Homo sapiens: one gene and its partner. The protein of the gene in region 2 interacts with the protein of the main gene of each other region in a pairwise test. Each region holds a gene or a part of one and is shown on either strand. Other genes may lie near its edges.

The links.
Region 1: the proteins of MATCAP1 (region 2) and ZBTB8B interact in binary tests that used the Homo sapiens proteins (3 or more experiments, as listed by UniProt).

The regions. Positions count from the first base shown.
Region 1 is NC_000001.11:32,471,272-32,475,090, forward strand, and holds part of ZBTB8B (zinc finger and BTB domain-containing protein 8B), read left to right. Parts: coding exon 1-344; intron 345-3,819. UniProt on the Homo sapiens protein: May be involved in transcriptional regulation.
Region 2 is NC_000016.10:67,177,839-67,181,089, forward strand, and holds part of MATCAP1 (microtubule-associated tyrosine carboxypeptidase 1), read right to left. Parts: intron 2,829-3,251; 5' UTR 2,773-2,828; coding exon 2,203-2,772; intron 2,121-2,202; coding exon 1,977-2,120; intron 1,725-1,976; coding exon 1,592-1,724; intron 667-1,591; coding exon 361-666; intron 270-360; coding exon 172-269; intron 1-171. UniProt on the Homo sapiens protein: Tyrosine carboxypeptidase that removes the C-terminal tyrosine residue of alpha-tubulin, thereby regulating microtubule dynamics and function. Also able to remove the C-terminal phenylalanine residue of alpha-tubulin TUBA8.

The DNA of each region.
Region 1 (3,819 bases), on a different chromosome or scaffold from region 2:
TGACAGCAACCTCTCTACTCCACCCAAACGGATAGAGCCCAAGGTGGAATTTGATGCTGATGAAGTGGAGGTGGACGTTGGTGAACAGCTGCAGCAGTATGCTGCCCCGCTGAACCTGGCCCACGTGGAGGAGGCCTTGCCAAGCGGCCAGGCGGTTGACTTGGCTTACAGCAACTACCACGTGAAGCAGTTCCTGGAGGCGCTCTTGCGCAACAGCGCTGCCCCGAGCAAGGATGATGCAGACCATCACTTTTCTAGGAGTTTGGAAGGAAGACCAGAAGGTGCAGGAGTAGCCATGAGTTCCATGATGGATGTCCAGGCTGACTGGTATGGAGAGGACTCAGGTGAGCTCCCTTAGCATTCATCAGCCCTGCCAGTGATTGAGTACACACTGTCTGTGCCTTGTGTTCTCCCATCATCATGATCATTATCACCATCATCATTGTCACTACCAACATTATCAGTACCATCATCACCAGTACCATCATCATTACCATCATCACCAGTATCGTCATCATTACCATCATCACTACCATCATCACCAGTACCATCATTACCATCATCACCAGTACCATCATCATCATTACCATCATCTCCAGTATCACCATCATCAGTACCATCATCATCACTATCATCATCACCAGTACTATTCATTACCATCATCACCAGTACCATCATCATCATTACCATCATCTCCAGTATCACCATCATCATTACCATCATCATCAGTACCATCATCATCACTACCATCATCACCAGTACCATCATCATTACCATCATCACCAGTACCATCATCATCACTACCATCATCACCAGTATCACCATCTCATTATGATCATCATCAGTCACCATTATTGCCACCACCACCACCACCAATATGCATTAATTGAGCACCTGCTATATGCAGGGCATTATTTCTTCATGTATGTTTGTGTTTTACCTCTACAACTGGAATGTAAGTGTGTTGGGGGCAGTTTGGAGACATGGGAGGAACCCACTCTCTTCCACTAACCGGCAGTGGGACCTTGGTTAAATCATTGAATCTCTTTGAGTCTGTTTTGTCATCTGTAAAACGGGAATAATCATCCCTGCCCTGCCTCTCTCACAGGTTTGTTGTGGGGACCAAATGAGAGAGTTTTCAGAACTTTTTCTCACATATCATCTTAGATTTCCTCTATGCTGGGAGGTCAGTTTTGTGTGGGGAGAATGAGATTGAAGTGATGTCCAGAGATATATGCTCCAGAGATTTATACTTCTCTGTGTCAGCCAAGGTGCTTGTCAGAGACTAGGCACCCAGCCTGGCATGCTTGATGATGCCATCTACTTGAGACTATTTGATTGATTGATTGATTGATTGATTGAGACAGGGTCTCGCTCTGTCACCCAGGCTGGAGTGCAACGGTGTGATCTCGGCTCACTGCAACCTCTGCCTCCCAGGTTCAAGTGATTCTTCTGCCTCAGCCTCCCGAGTAGCTGGGATTACCGTAGGCGCATACCGCCACGCCCAGCTAGTTTTTGTATTTTCAGTAGAGACAGGGTTTCACCATGTTGGCCACGCTAGTCTCAAACTCCTGACCTCAAGTGATCCTCCTGCCTTGGCCTCCCAAAGTGCCAGGATTATAGGCGTGAGCCACTGTGCCCGGCTGACTTGAGACTATTTTAGAGCCAGTATTTGACATCATGTGAGCTAATTTTTTACATCCTTTGGTGGGCTTTTGCGTTTTAAGAGAACCTGCTTGTTTCTTTGAACAGTTATGAGAGTTGAGTTAATATGGCTAACTCCTCTTAACAGGTGAGGTAATTGTGTTATAAGGTGTCTTGTAGGAGACAAAAATAAACTTGGCTGCCAACTTACTGATGAAACGTGGCTTCCAAACCTTAAGCCAAGGCTGGGCGCGGCGGCACGCGCCTGTAATCCCAGTTACTCAGGAGGCTGAGGCAGGAGAATAGCTTGAACCTAGGAGGCGGAGCTTGCAGTGAGCCGAGATCGTGCCACCACACTCCAGCCTGGGTGACAGAGCGAGACTACTTCTCAAAAAAAAAAAGAAAGAAAGAAAGAAAAGAAAAGGAAAAAAATACCAGAACCTCAAGCCAAGAAATTCATGAATTGCAGTCTAGTAGTGAAATATTGAGTAGTGAAAGTCTTTTCCTTTTTTTAGCTTCTGATTCTCTGAAGTGAAAGTCTTTTAAATAAAGGGAGATCAGCTATTTTTATTCATTACTAAATGGCTGTCTTGAGACTTTTTTTTTTTTTTTTTTGAGACAGGGTCTTACTCTGTTGCCCAGACTAGAGTGCAGTGGCATAATCACAGCTCACTGCAGCCTCGACCTCCCGAGCTCAAGTGATCCTCCCACTTCAGCATCCCAAGTAGCTGTGATTACGGGCATACACCACCACACCCAGCTAATTTTTTGTATGTTTGATTTATAATAGAGACAAGGTCTCCCTATGTTGCTCAGTTTGGTCTCAAACTCCTGGGATCAAGCAATCCTCTCACCTCAGCCTCTCAAAGTGCCAGGATTACAGGTGTGAGCCATTGTGCCTGGCCTGTCTTGAAACTTTCTAATTTCTGGGTTTATTTTATTTTAATTTTTTTGAGGCAGAGTCTCACTCTGTTGCCCAGGCTGGAGTGCAGTGGTGCGATCTCAGCTCACTGCAACCTCTGCCACCTGGGTTCAAGCGAGTCTCCTGCCTCAGCCTCCCGAGTAGCTGGGATTACAGGCACGTGCCACCATGCCTGGCTAGTTTTTGTAGTTTTAGTAGAGATGAGGTTTCACCATGTTGGCCAGGCTGGACTCGAACTACTGACCTCAGGTGATCCCCCTGCCTCGGCCTCTCAAAGTGCTAGGATTACAAGGATGAGCCACTATGCCCGGCTTCAAATTTCATTTTTTTAAAAAGCAAGAGCACTCAGTGTGTCTGATTAAAACAAGACTTGAAAAACTTGAAAATGGCCAGGTGCAGTGGCTCACACCTATAATCCCAGCATTTTGAGAGGCCAAGGAGGGAGGATTGCTTGAGCCCAGGAGTTTGAGACCAGCCCGGGCAAGATGGCAAAACCCCATCTCTACAAAAAAAAAAAAAAAAAAAAAAAAAAAAAAAAAAAAAAATTGAAAAATTAGCCAGGCGTCATTGCATGTACCCATAGTCCCAGCTACTCAGGAGGCTGAGGTGGGAGGATCACCTGAGCCTGGGAGGTCGAGGCTGCGGTGAGCTGTGATTGTGCTTCCAGCCTCGATGACAGAGTGAGACCTTGTCTCAAAAAAAAAAGGAAAAAGAAAAAAAAAAGAAACACTTGAAAATGCTGTTTCTGGTTCTGAGACACTGGCTTCACCAGCATTGGGAAGATAGTGGCTGCTTCCATGAACACACCGTGGGAACTTGTTCAAATTCTCATTGCTGTGTGTATAATGGCATTTCACAGACTGATCACCCTTTCACATCCACAAGTCTCTCATGGTGTCCCATGCCTTTGGCAGAGGAAATATGGAGAAACTGTTACCTAGAAGGGTTTAGTGAGTTTCGTAAGAATGTAAGTAGTAAGTGGCCCAGCTAAAACCAGAAAACTGGAGTGGCTTCTTTCATTCATTAAACAAACAGTGAAAGCAACACAAGTAGGTAGCGGATTTCAGTGCAATGATTTTTTTCTTTGAACCCCTCTGCATGTAAGCACAAGAAGTATCAGGAAATAGGCATTTGGCTCTGTGCCACTTATAATATATTCAGGTCCTGTCCTTATTGGTCTGGAAAGTCAGAGTTCTTGCTATAAGGTGTTGTGGTGTGGCAAGGCAGCTGCCCTGGCCCCTGGCCATGCCCTG
Region 2 (3,251 bases):
TGGTTTTGCTGCCAGAGTCATTTCATCTCCTGTTCTCACTTCCACCCACGCTCCCCCCTACCACCACAGGCCTGACACCCAGCCCTCGGTCTAGCACCAATCCGAGGCTCAGGGAATTCTACAGCAAGGCAGGGAGCTGGCTGGGACCTCTGAAGGTCCACAGCCCCTCACCTTGCCCAGTGAGGTCAGCAACGGGAAATCGATGGTCTGGCGATGTCGCAGAATGCGCACGATGCCGTCCAGGTACACCTGGTCCTTGCTGAAACAACCTGGGAGGGCAGGAGGGCGGTGAGCCCCGCCCCTCGCCCGAAGCCCCGCCCCCACCCCGGCTCTAGGCACCTCCCCCGCGCTGGCGCACACCTGGCAGCGAGGTGTCGGTCTGGCCGCGCTTGGCGCGCACGCAGTACTCCCAGCGCACATCGGCGTCCTGCACGTAGCGCTCCAGGTCCTGGAAGAGCTGACGGAAGGACATGCGCGCGGCGCGGTGGATGGTGTAGTAGAGCAGTGCAGCGCGCCACAGGAACGGCTGCTTGCGGAACAGCACGCTGTGCAGGCTGGCCAGGCCCTCCTCCGTGGGGTTCGCCGGCCGCAGCCCGTACCGCAGCCGGCCCTCCGCGTTGTGCCACGGCTGGCGCGCGTTGTTCACGCCCCGCAGGTAGTGGGTGCCTGCGGGGAAGGCGAGGGGAGGCGGCGCTGGGCGGGGCGTTCGGGGACCCGCCTGCGAGCCCAGCCCTGGCCCTGTTCCATCTGGCCGGGGCTCTGGCCGCGACACTTCCATCCTCATGCTCCTGAACTCAGGCTCGCACACAGGCTCTCCCAGCCCCAGGCAGCGTGAAGCTCCTCCTCCTGTGGACTCGCACCCAAGGATCCACAGAGGCTCACATACATGAATCCTCTCCCACCCATCCGCCCCCCACCCTACACCCACGCACCCACACACGTGCACGAACTCTCCCAAACTGACATTGCCCCCAGCCCTCCTGGGCACAAGAATACATATACCACCCTGCCCAACATCCTGGGTGCCCATATCATCTTGAACAGTCATGCTGATGCCCCCGGTAAAAATCACTCTTGCCCAGAGCAACAGGATTCTCGAGGAAGAGGGACAGACAGATAGGAATAGTGGTTAGTGCCCTGCACCCCCCTGCCCAAACTGGCCAGTCCCCTCCTAAACCAGGTGCCATGTGTCCTCAAGTCAAGTCCATTCCCAGGACCTGGCCTTCCATCCACCCTGGAGGGCCAGCGTGGTGGCTGGCCTGGTGGGACCCTGAGGGTTCTTTCTCTGGCCGGTCAGGGCCTGACCAGCCTTGCCCGCACTGTTGGGAGAAGTCGGAGAGGAAGTGGAGAGAGAAAAATATACCCGAAAGGACCAAGAGATGAGAGCGAGCCCAGAGCATGGGCAGGCATGTTCTGGCCTACCTCTGTAAGCAGAGGGCGGGAGGTGGCTGCTCAGGAAGGGAAAGCCCCGACCTCAGGAGGGAAGGGGGAGAAACAAAAAGGGGAGTTATTGGGGCCCCTCCTTCCCACCCCTCCCAGCTCCCAGGCCCCTTTCATGCCTACCCATCTGCCCGGATACCCACACCCTGACCTATCTCATGCCGCAGCATGCCCTCCAACCAGTACTGGCGGGCTCCGGTCAGGTTGATCGCCAATGTGGGCCGGCTGTTCTCCACCATCATCACTGCCTGGGACAGCAGGTCCTCACTCAGCTGCACCACAACCTGCAGGTGGCAGTGCTCTGAGCCATGGCCACCAGCCTGGGGCCAGGGTGCAGGTGGACCCAATGATGCCACAGGGCAGCGAGGCCAGACAATTGGCCAGGGCACCCACCCTTCATCACCTCTGCTCAGAACCAGCTCCCACCTCACTGGGGCAGGGGCAGGGGTGGGTCAGGTGTGGAGCTGGACCTGGGACCGCCCACAAGACACCCTGATTTGGGGCATGTAGAGGAAGGGCTCTGCAGGCAAGCTCACCTCCCCAGCGCAGCCCTCCTTCTGCATGTATTTGCGCACAATCGACCATATCTGGCACTTGGTGAGCAGCTGCCCCCCAGTGGCAGCCTCAAAGTGTTCATAGGTTCCAAACTTCTCCAGAACAGCCTCAATGATGCCAACTGCCTGTACACGGGGCCACAGTGGCTGGTCAGGACAAGCCCCTTGGGTGGTCAGGGCCAGGATACGGTGGGGAGGCTGGACTGACCTGATGGATGAACTGTCCAGAGGCCTCGCAGTACTTTTCCAGCACAGCCGTGGGCATGGGCTCCTGGTACTCAAACTGTGGATTGTAGGTGTAATGGGACTGGAAGAACTTGTCTCGCTCACGGTCCATGTTGGTTGGCCGCAGGGCCACCAACATGCAGGGGCTCTTGCTGGCAATATGGCCTGCATCCCTTTGAGTCTTAGCAATGTGAGGCAGGGAGGCTGCAGGCCGCAGGGTGCCCCCACCTGGGTTCCGTCCCCGTCCAGGTGGAGGCCGTCCCAGGGTGCCACGCCCCCGCCGGCCAGTACTATTTACAGAGTAGGTGCTCTCACTGCGACGCATGTGGCCACGGTGGCCCAGGAGCATCTGTGAGAACGGCTGCTGCTCAGGCTGGGGCTGCAGCGCTGGGGGGACTGCCAGAGCCAGGGGCAAGGCCAGGGACTGAGACCAGGGGTACAGTGGTGGCCCATCTCGGTCTGAGGGCTTCAGCCTATGGCGCAGGGATGGGGGACTGGTAGGCGGGCTGGGGGGTGCCTGATCATACGCCTGAGCCCCTGAGTCCAGCACCATTCTGTCCTGGGGGTCACATCCAGCCGGGTCACTCCAACTCCCCACACTGTCGACCTCTGGGGACACAGAAGGGCATGTGGAGACCAGCATGAGTGGGTGTGACCAAACGACCAGCAGGCCCTGTACTCCACATTGCCTCTGCTGGGCCCTTGGTGGGCCCAGGCTCTGCTACCAGGGGTCTGATTGGCTGCAGCGTCCATTGCCTCCAGCAGACTCACCCAAATATGCTGGGCCGGAAGAAAGCACTTTTGTTTTCGTTTTTGTTTTTTGAGACAGGGTCTCACTCTGTTGCCCAAGGTGGAGTGCAGTGCAATGATCATAGCTCATTGCAGCCTCCAACTCCTGGCCTGAAGTGATCCTCCCGCCTCAGCCTCCCAAAGTGCTGGAATTAAATGCATGAGCCATCGCACCCAGCCGAAAGCAAGAGTTTTAAACACCCACCTAGGTGGTGGTTACTGGAATCCTCTCAGCCTGAGCTC